Homo sapiens: one gene and its partners. The protein of the gene in region 1 interacts with the protein of each later gene in a pairwise test. Each region holds a gene or a part of one and is shown in the gene's direction. Other genes may lie near its edges. The genes, in order: EXOC1, SPTAN1 and COLEC12.

Region 1 (3,651 bases):
TTAGATTTTTACCTCATACTTTTCTTTAAAACTGGTCTGAATTTATTATTAATATATCATTCCTTTATTTTTCAAGGAATCTCCTCTGATCTTCTAGTCTGACTTAGATGCTTCTATTAGGATTCTGTGCTTTCCTCGGTCATAGCACTTGTTGCAAAGTATTACACCTCTTTTAGTATCAGCTACTAGGCACCTGAAAGCTATACTTGCAATGAGTGAATGAAGAATGAGTGAAAGGGGTAATATTTCTAATAAAAGTGTGCGTTTTACTCAACAGTGACAACTGAACGCCCTGTGCAGGTTAAGGTGGTCAAAGTCAAGAAATCCGATAAGGGAGATTTCTACAAAAGGCAGATTGCATGGGCCCTTCGAGATCTTGCTGTGGTAGATGCCAAAGATGCTATCAAAGTAGGTTTTTCTCAGTTCTTTGACCTGTGTTCAGAAAGCATCTTTCATTTTATAACATGGTATTACATATTCTAAAATGATCTAAAAACAAATTAATATATATGTTTGTTTTCTTATTTTTTTGCTTTTTTTAAGCTATAATTATGTTTGTGCACAAGCTACATAAACTAGAGAAAAATTACTTTGACTGTATACATTTCTGTGTTTAGATTAAGTATAATTTGTATAAAATCTATACATAGTATGGATTTTAAAGTGGTGTGTCATGAGTTTTTTTTGCTTGTTTGTTTGTTTGTTTAATCAAAATCATATAACCAAAGTGATCCTTCCTTAGTCTTCATGAGTAAACATAGAATCACCAGCTGGGGCAGCCAGACTGGCCTTTTGAGGCCACCATGGCTTTGATGTTTGTGGATCAAAAAAAAAAAAAAAGAAATGATAGTGGGTTACATACCTTATTTTAAGGAATGTAGATAATAAGATCTATGAAGATATAAACTTACACGTTATAGATAAACCACACTCAAACTCCAAGAAAGGTGATTAATGTGATAATCACATTAAAGGACCACCTATGTTCCTGACAGTTCAAAGCTTTCACAGCAATACCCTTTTTTCAAAGCAATCAAGTTGGCCTCCTTTGATTAAATTAGGTGCTTCCTCCCCCTGGCCCTCTCTCACTCTGCCCTTCATCTTTCTCTGCAGCCCTAACACACCTCCATAGCACAAGAGAATACTTTGTACCACAACTACTTGTATGTCGATGGGATGAACATAATAGCAAGGCTTATACTAGTGAAACTACAGGTGCTCTTTGACTCTACAAATCTCATACATTTACTAAAAAGGCACAAAGTAAAAACAACAAAAAACAAAAAAACTGCCTGTGTAAAGCAATCTGTTAAAATAAAATTCTGATTTTACCCTTACTTTGGTACAAACCTCCAAGGATCAAAAATCTGGACAAAATGACAGGTAGTTGAGTTGGGTGCAAAAAAAATGAAGTAAGAACAATTTGAGGAGAGCCCTCTATATCTGTATAATTCAGATTTCTTCCAAATGTAAATCATGCCTTTTCTTTAAGTATTCTAGGCTTACTGGCCCTTTGTTTTATCCCTAAGGAGCACCCAATGCTTAGAAAAATGTGAAATGTAGAAACAGGATTTGACAGAAATTTAGAAAGCTAGAGATTGGAAAGAAAATTATAATGGGATGTTTAAAAATAATTTAGGCCAGGCGTGGTGGCTCACGCCTGTAATCCTAACACTTTGGGAGGCCGAGGCTGGTGGATTGCCTGAGCTCAGGAGTTCAAGACCAGCCTGGGTAACACAGTGAAACCCTGTCTCTACTAAAATACAAAAAATTAGCTGGGCGTGGCGGCACACGCCTGTAGTCCCAGCTTCTTGGGAGGCTGAGGCAAGAGAATTGCTTGAACCTGAGAGGCAGAGGTTGCAGTGAGCCGAGATTGCGCCACTGCACTCCAGCCTGGGCAACAGAGTGAGACTCTGTCTCCACAAAAAAAAACAAAAAAAAACTTCTGTAAGTAATTTTTATTACCATGGGGAGGGATCAAGAGTGGAAACTTTTCTGGTTGTTTTCTGTTAAGACAAAACACTTTAAGGGTTTTTAAAACTGCACCTTTATTAAAAAACATTTTTCCCTTCAGTAGTTTTGCACTTCGTAACCCTGTTGACTTGCATAATTCAGTAACATTGCTGAATGCTTATTTGAATGCATTCTCACAGCTGATGCCTCTTGCAGACTTGCTTAATGGATTTTTTTTTTTTGCATTTTATGTAGGCACCTTGGTGTGTGTATGCTATATATGGATATAAAACATAAAATTTTTATACATAACTTAACATTAGCCATTTAGTATCACACATTGATTTGTGAGTGTTGCCACTGGAGCACTCAGCTTCTTTTATGGTATTATGGGAAATATTCCCAGGGAAGAGATTATTTCCCATCAAGTTTCATATTGGTTGCCAATACTCTTGTTGTGTTTTTTTGTAAGTAATAATGCAATTACCTTTTCATTGTATATGCAGGTTTTAAATTTTTGACGCTTCAATTCTGTTTATTAAGCTATAAATTGAACTAATTAGTAGTTCCATGCTGCTGTAATATGATTGTTGTACCAAAGGTCAAGTCCTGATTCCTGAGATACTCCAGTTCTTCACAGTGAAAGTCTGATATAACTTCCCTTACTTTAATGTATTTACATTTCCCCCAAATAACACTTTAAATGAATCAAATATATTATTATTCTTTTACCCTGTAGAACATTAAGAATATTTGAGCCTATTTTTTAATTCCTTGGATGTGAAGTATACATCCATAAGTTTGTTTGTTTGTTTGTCTGCTTGTTTGTTTTGAGACAGGGTCTCACTCTGTCACCCAGGCTGGAGTGCGGTGGCACAATCTTGGCTCACTGCAGCCTCCACCTTCCGGGCTCAAGCCATCCTCCCACCTTAGCCTCCCGAGTAGCTGGGACTACACGTACATGCCACTACACCCGGCTAATTTTTGTGTTTTTTGTAGAGAAGTGTTTTGCCATGTTGCCCAGGCCAGTCTCAAATTCCTGGGTTCAAGCAATCTACCCACCTCGGCCTCCCAAAGTGCTAGGATTACAGGCGTGAGCTACCAAGCCCAGCCTGTTTTTTTATATAATAGTCAAGTAGTTCTATTCATTCAAGGGAGAAATATTAGCCTGATGTGGATTATTGCTATAATGTGGCTTAAGAGACTTGAAGAAACTATAGTGTAATTCTCTCAGATTGGTTGAGCTTCTTTATCACATGAAAGAACGTTAGGCCAGGAACAGGGCTCATGCCTGTAATTCCAGCACTTTGGGAGGCCGAAGCAGGAGGATCAACTGGATAACATGGGGAGATCTTGTCTCTACAAGAACATTTTAAAAATTAGGCATGCTGGTATGTGTCCGTGTCCCCAGCTACTCAGGAGGCTGAGGTTGGGAGGATTGCCTGAGCCCAGGAGGTGGAGGCTGCAGTGAACCATGATTGCACCACTGCATTGTAGCCTTGGCAACAAAGTGAGACCCTGTCTCAAAAAAATAAAGAACTTTGAGACCTAGCAGCACTTTTAGCTTTCAAGATATCTTTAATCATTCCTTATTTTCAAAATAGAAAATAATTAGGCGCAATCTCTGCTTTTCACCTCACTTGTTCTTAGAAAGTACACCAGGATATACATTGCATTTTTCTCAAGTTTTATACTTAG
Region 2 (3,651 bases), on another chromosome or scaffold:
CGCAGTGATCTGCGGTCTGAAGGAGAGCAGGAAAGGGGGCATGTGTGACTGAGTCTCAGCAGTGTCCAGGTGGACAGTTTGGCTTGGGCATCTGGGGGACATGCTGGTGCCATCTGAGCCTAGGAAGAGCAAGTTCCAGTCCTGTGGAGTCACCACAAATTGGCTTGTCACTCCTTGTTCAGGAAACTTTTGACGCTGGGCTGCAGGCCTTCCAGCAGGAAGGCATTGCCAACATCACTGCCCTCAAAGATCAGCTTCTCGCCGCCAAACACGTTCAGTCCAAGGCCATCGAGGCCCGGCACGCCTCCCTCATGAAGAGGTGGAGCCAGCTTCTGGCCAACTCAGCCGCCCGCAAGAAGAAGCTTCTGGAGGCTCAGAGTCACTTCCGCAAGGTGAGGATGGGGCCACGTGAAGCTTAGCTGGCCCACAGCTCAAGGAAGGACGCCCACCTTCTGTCTGCCCAGCTCTGCCACTCCCCCTTGAGGAAGCTGTGAGCTCAGTGCAGAGCTTTCAAACATGGGTGTGGCTGGCATCAATTAAAACCAGGGCAAATGAGAGGGCCCTGTGAGATCGCCATTCAGAAGCACGCAGGACAGACTAGAGACAAGGGCAAAGGGTAGGAAGGGGAAAAAAGGCTGGTGAAGACTTGAAGGGGGAGCAGGAGACAGGAGCAGAGGGGAGCTAAGCTCCCAGCAGGCTGTGTGCGCCTCTGATTCCCAGGAACCACCCCGCACCCCACCTCCTGCACTGCGTCGGCACGTCCAGCCCTGGCGACTCCGCCAACTCAGTCTCTTCTGCTTCCAGGTGGAGGACCTCTTCCTGACCTTCGCCAAAAAGGCTTCTGCCTTCAACAGCTGGTTTGAAAATGCAGAGGAGGACTTAACAGACCCCGTGCGCTGCAACTCCTTGGAAGAAATCAAAGCTTTGCGCGAGGCCCACGACGCCTTCCGCTCCTCCCTCAGCTCTGCCCAGGCTGACTTCAACCAGCTGGCCGAGCTGGACCGCCAGATCAAGAGCTTCCGCGTAGCCTCCAACCCCTACACCTGGTTTACCATGGAGGCCCTGGAGGAGACCTGGAGGAACCTACAGAAAATCATCAAGGTACACCTCCCGCTGCCCTCAGGAGCTGCTCGGCCTCCCAGAGCCCTCTCTGGGCCCTGCTCAGAGCCCACACTTAACTGAGTCACGACAAGACGAGCAGGATGGAGGAGCATGGTTTCATCAGAAGTTTCATTTCTTTTTGTGTTCTTGAGGCAGGGTCTCTGTCACCCAGGCTTCAGTGCAGTGGTGCTACCATGGCTCCCTGTAGCCTCAACCTCCCAGGCTCAGGTGATCCTCTTGCCTGAGCCTCTTGAATAACTGGGACTACAAGCACGTGCCACCACGCCTGGCTAATTATTTTAATTTTTGTAGACAGGGTGTTGCTATGTTGCCCAGGCTGGTCTTCAACTCCTGGCCTCAAGCAGTCCTCCTGCCCAGGCCTCCCAAAGTGCTGGGATTACAGGTGTGAGCCACTGTACCCAGCCAGAAGTTTCCATTTCTGACAGTCCAGCAACTCCCTGCTTGACTGACCAGTCGCTTCCCTCCAGGTCCGCCTCTTCCTTGAAGCCCCTGGGGGGTGGGAACAGAGAAAGAACTACCAAGTGCTCTGAGCCGGCCTCATGTCTCCCAGCCTCCTCCTCTCATCTTTGGGGAGGTTCCTTGTGGGGAGGCCACCACCACCCTGAGCCCATCTGTGAAGGAGGGGCTGGTGTCACTGCCACAGCAGCGCACAGCATCTGCCCCCCTTTGGCCCTCAGGAGAGGGAGCTGGAGCTGCAGAAGGAACAGCGGCGGCAGGAGGAGAACGACAAGCTGCGCCAGGAGTTTGCCCAGCACGCCAACGCCTTCCACCAGTGGATCCAAGAGACCAGGTGCCAGCCCGCTGGGGCCGGGGAGCAGCAGCATGTCCCTGCTGTACTTAAGCCCTGGGGAGCTTCCAGCCCCAAGGAGGTGGTGGTGCTTTGTGTAAAACCAGAGGCAGCCTGGGAATAAAGCTGGGCTGGCAACGCCTGGTCGGGCTCTGGAGCCGGGAGTGGGGGCATAGGTGGAGCAGCCTCTCAGTGCTGCATGTCCCAGACATCAAGTTGTTAGAGATCCCGGATTGAGTGGGACCATGCAGGGCGCGTGGTCAGCCCCAGCCATGACTTGGTGACAGACGATGCAGGGTCTGTGCGTTGGGTACTGATGTTCTTGCTTTTGTTTTCCTTTCTTTCTTGTGTCTTCTCTCTGTCCCCCCGATTGCTGCTGTTGTCCGGACACCACCTTGTCTCCCGGCTGCTTGGATCTGCTCTCCACAGGACATACCTCCTCGATGGGTTAATATTGTTTTCTTCCTTCTCTGGGCTTGTCATGTGGGGGTCTCGTGCGCTTGCCCCTCGTGGCCTGGCTTGTGGAGGATCCCGGGATGGGCCTTCCTGCCCAGGGCGGGCTGCACTTCCCCTCCCACCCTTCTCGTCACCTGATGAGGAGTGTGTGCCTTGCCCCATAGCCCATGGTCCCTGGTCCCCGATAGAGCCTTCAAGCCAGGGGGAGCCGTCCTTGCCTCACTGGGCGATTCCAAGGGCTCACTTTGGGTAGGGAAGGTGATGAAGCACGAAGGCCAGAGCTGGAGTCCAGAGGCCCTAAGAACCCCCGTGCCTGTCCAGCCACCGGGCTCTGTTGGGCTCTCACCTCTGCTTCCCCAGCGAGTCCAACAGTGGTCAGTGGGCATGAAGCAGATGGCAGTGCTGGGGGCTCAGGCAGGGTACAGTAAGTCCACAGCTGAGAAGGGCTGGGCACTGACACCCCCTAAGTAGCTGAGGCTGCCACTTTACTTTCCTGGGGTCAGGGAGGGTAACAAGACTGTCCGCCCTAATAGAAGGCAAAAATGCACCCGTTATGTGATAGACAGGACGTGGGAGGAGCCCCAGGGAGGAGCAGGGCTGGGCTGTCCCGCCCAGTCCCGGCAGGGACTTCTCTGCTTGGCCTGGGGCCTCTGCCTGGCCGGGTCACCTTTGTAATCTGCCAAGCCTGCTGTGAAAGCCAGGGCTGCTGGGACTGGAGTGGCTTGGCCTGCACTCCTGAGGCTCTGCACCCAGGCACATCAAGCCTGTATAGGCGGCCAGGGGAGAAATAGACCCATCCAGCCGGGCCACACATTCTGATGGCAGAGCAGCTGGGGACGTAGGGATCGCAGTTTCCGGCCTGTGCCCGTAGGACACCCTGGCCACCTGACTCCCCTCCCTGCCCCATGCCTGTGTCTGCTGGTCTTGCTCTTGTCTCCGTGAGGTGCCACGCTCCCCTCACCTTATGGCTCCTCCCAAGCCCTGCCCATCTTGCCCATTCCTAGTGTGAGCTGCCTGGGGTGAACCACTGGGCCTGCTGCCTCCAGGTACCCGCCGGGCACCAGGTTGCCCTTGCCTGCGCCCTGCCAGCTTGGGCTTTGTGTGTGTCTGTTGCAGTGTGCTCTTGCCTCCCCTCCCTTTGGTGTATTCATTTGGTTTCTTTTCTTTGAATAGCATAGCATATCGTCGGGTCATTCGTGTCTATCAGTATGAAGTTGGGGATGATCTGTCTGGAAGGTTTTTCTCCTTATTTCTCTTCTTACCTCACTGTGGCTTTACTGATGCAC
Region 3 (3,651 bases), on another chromosome or scaffold:
TGTATTTTTAGTAGAGATGGGGTTTCACCATGTTGGCCAGGCTGGTCTTGAACTCCTGAGCTCAAATGATCCACCCACCCCAGCCTCCCAAAGTGTTGGAATTACGGGCGTGAGCCACCATGCCCGGTCTGAAGTCTTTTTTTTTAAGCTATTGATACTAAGAAGGACAGTCAGACTTGATCCCAAGCTGCTAGAAGCTGTATCTCACATAAATCACTTTTGGAGAAACATCCTCTTATTTAACATTTTAGAAACGTGTACTTGAATTCATAACTGTAGAGAATTACTGCCTTCTGAAAATGAATAAGAACTGAAGCTTTTATTTAGTGTGGCTGTATTAGTCCGTTCCCATGCTGCTGATAAAGACATACCCGAGACTGGGAAGAACAAGAGGTTTAACTGGAATTACAGTTCCACATGGCTGGGGAGGCCTCAGAATCATGGTGGGAGGCAAAAGGCACTTCTTACACGGCAGCAGCAAGAGAAAGTGAGAAAGATGAAAAAGTGGAAACCCATCAGATCTCGTGAGACTTATTCACTACCATGAGAACAGTATGGGGGAAACCGCCCCCATGATTCAAATTATCTCCCACTGGGTCCTTCCCACAACACATGTAAATTCTGGGAGATATAATTCAAGATGAGATTTGGGCGAGAATACAGCCAAACTGTATCATTCCACCCCTGGCCCCTGCCAAATCTCATGTCCTCACGTTTCAAAACAAATCATGCCTTCCCAACAGTCCCACAAAGTTTTAACTCATTTCAGCATTAACCCTAAAGTCTGCAGTCCAAAGTCCCATCTGAGACAAGGCAAGTCCCTTCCGCCTATGAGCCTGTAAAATCAAAAGCAAGCTAGTTACTTCCTAGATACAATGAGGGTTACAGGTATTGGGTAAATATAGCCTTTCCAAATGGGAGAAATTGGCCAAAACAGAGGGGTTACAGGCCCCATGCAAGTTCAAAGTCAGCAGGGCAGTCAAATTTTAAAGCTCCACAATTATCTCCTTTGACTCCAGGTCGCACATCCCGGTCATGCTGACGCAAGAGGTGGGTTCCCATGGTCTTGGGCAGCTCCACCCCTGTGGCTTTGCAGGGTACAGCCTCTCTCCCTGCTGCTTTCATGGCTGGTGTTGAGCATCTGTGGCTTTTCCAGGTGAACGGTGCAAACTGTCAGTGGATCTACCCTTCTGGGGTCTGGAGGACGGTGGCCCTCTTCTCACAGCTCCACTAGGCAGTGCCCCAGTAGGGACTCTGTGTGGGGGCTCCGACACCACATTTCCCTTCCACACTGCCCTAGCAGAGGTTCTTCATGCACATCCCACCCGTGCAGCAAACCTCTCCCTGGGTATCCAAGAGTTCCCATACATCCTCTGAAATCCAGGCGGAGGTTCCCAAACCTCAATTATTGATTTCTGTGCACTCACAGGCTCAACAACACATGAAAGCTGCCAAGGCTTGAGACTTGCACCCTCTGAAGCCACGGCCCCAGCTCCACATTGGCCCCTTTCAGCCATGGCTGGAGTGGCTGGGAAGCAGGGCACCAAGTCCCTAGGCTGCACACAGCATGGGGACCCTGGGCCTGGCCCACGAAACCATTTTCTCCTGGGCCTCCAGGCCAGTGATGGAAAGGGCTGCCAGGAAGGCTCTGACATGCCCTGAAGACATTTTCCCCATTGTCTTGGGGGTTAACATTTGGGACGGCAAGAGAAAATTAGAAAGATGCAAAAGTGGAAACCCCTGATAAGACCATCAGATCTTGTGAGACTTATTCACTACCACCAGAACAGTATAGGGGAAACCACCCCCATTATTCAAATTATCTCCCACCAAGTCCCTCCCACAACACATGGGAATTAGGGGAGTATAATTCAAGGTGAGATTTGGGTGGGGACACAGCCAAACCCTATCAGTGGCATTACTTTCCCTATCATATGCAATCAAGAAAATACTACCAAAAAATACTTCTTGGCAAATCATTGTTTGGAAACACCACTCAGGCATCTACTTGAGAACTGACAAACTACAGAATCAGTTGTCACTAACAAAAAGCAGATTTTCAGGGCCTTGTGGTGGAACTCATAACAGAAAGTGGCAGACACTCTTGACTTTGCAACCTTTCTATGCCGATTTTGTGTATAGAATTGAGCTGGGTTTTCCTTGCCAATGGAATCCTCTTCTAGGTAAATGAGTCCCACCTGCCAAGAATGTTAGGGAAGCTGATGAGTGACAACATTTTGTAAATTATCACAGTGTGCCTTGCCTTCATCTATGGAAATTAATATAGGAAATAGCAGATTAGGGACTTCTAAAATGCATGAAAATTTTTAAATTAGTTCCAAATGATTTCTGAAACATCCAAGGCATTACAGAATCATAAGAATAGTTAAGAACATACAATTCTCAACTAAGTAAATTGTACCCCTGGGTTTTGTGACAAGTAAGTTATTTTTCCAAAAAGATGGCTTTTCTTTCCTATATTTGATTTCAGTTACACTGTTTTCGTTCAATCTGTTTCCTTTGTTCCATAATGAAATGATCTCTTGTTTTGAAACTGAAAAATAAAATATGAGCAGATATGTATACTAATGCATCATTTTCCAAATCTTAGTTGTAGAGAAAATGGACAATGTCACAGGTGGCATGGAAACATCTCGCCAAACCTATGATGACAAGCTCACAGCAGTGGAAAGTGACCTGAAAAAATTAGGTAATCTGTGACAAGACTAAACCATGAAATCCCCTGACTCTACATAAATGACCACAGCTTCTTAGAATGATGTTGCTATAAACTCCCCATTCACCCGGAAGGACATTCAATTTTTGTGTTGCATGTTGAGTCTCCCCTCATGATTTAATTCAAATGCTTAAATTTTAAAGTTAAGGGTCAGTTTTGGAATTAAGTCCTGCCAAGAAAACTATTATGTGCCAAATAATATCTGAAGATCAATCCTGACTGAAAAAAAACACAAATACCCTTTATTAAAAACTGTCACATAAATAGGAATTTACTGAGCATTTTTGAAATACTTTAAACTACATAGAATTGTAGAAATTAAGTTATAAAGTGAAAGATCCTAGCATATTCTATTCCTTGATTTTTGCTTTCATTAAAAAAAAATTTGGGAAATTTAAAAGGTTAGTTTCTTCTTGACAGCCTGCCCACTGCCCTAAAATCTAGTAAATTCCCCCTCCCTCTTTGAGAAAAATGTTCAGCCAAGTTTGTCATTCCTAGTTCTGAGCTTCTTTTCCGATTCCCCAGGACCCAGTTTTAATAGATATGTACATTTTACTAATGCAGAGCTGTCCGCTTATACTGCCAATTTTGCATCTAAAATACAGTGCATACCGATTAAGTGTGTTCGGGATCTTTGGCCTTGCCTGAACACTTCTCCATACCACCAATATAAGTCACAGATATTTCTTATTCCAGGTGACCAAACTGGGAAGAAAGCTATCAGCACCAACTCAGAACTCTCCACCTTCAGATCAGACATTCTAGATCTCCGTCAGCAACTTCGTGAGATTACAGAAAAAACCAGCAAGAACAAGGATACGCTGGAGAAGTTACAGGCGAGCGGGGATGCTCTGGTGGACAGGCAGAGTCAATTGAAAGAAACTTTGGAGAATAACTCTTTCCTCATCACCACT

Evidence for each region.
Region 2: the proteins of EXOC1 (region 1) and SPTAN1 interact in a two-hybrid assay, tested with the Homo sapiens proteins (2 studies listed by BioGRID and IntAct).
Region 3: the proteins of EXOC1 (region 1) and COLEC12 interact in a two-hybrid assay, tested with the Homo sapiens proteins (2 studies listed by BioGRID and IntAct).

Annotation. Positions count from the first base shown.
Region 1 is NC_000004.12:55,860,134-55,863,784, forward strand, and holds part of EXOC1 (exocyst complex component 1), read left to right. Parts: intron 1-277; coding exon 278-408; intron 409-3,651.
Region 2 is NC_000009.12:128,625,587-128,629,237, forward strand, and holds part of SPTAN1 (spectrin alpha chain, non-erythrocytic 1), read left to right. Parts: intron 1-182; coding exon 183-392; intron 393-804; coding exon 805-1,101; intron 1,102-1,417; coding exon of another isoform or gene 1,418-1,504; intron 1,505-1,799; coding exon 1,800-1,912; intron 1,913-2,338; coding exon 2,339-2,356; intron 2,357-3,538; coding exon of another isoform or gene 3,539-3,601; intron 3,602-3,651. UniProt on the Homo sapiens protein: Fodrin, which seems to be involved in secretion, interacts with calmodulin in a calcium-dependent manner and is thus candidate for the calcium-dependent movement of the cytoskeleton at the membrane.
Region 3 is NC_000018.10:347,124-350,774, reverse strand, and holds part of COLEC12 (collectin-12), read left to right. Parts: intron 1-2,611; coding exon 2,612-2,710; intron 2,711-3,433; coding exon 3,434-3,651. UniProt on the Homo sapiens protein: Scavenger receptor that displays several functions associated with host defense. Promotes binding and phagocytosis of Gram-positive, Gram-negative bacteria and yeast.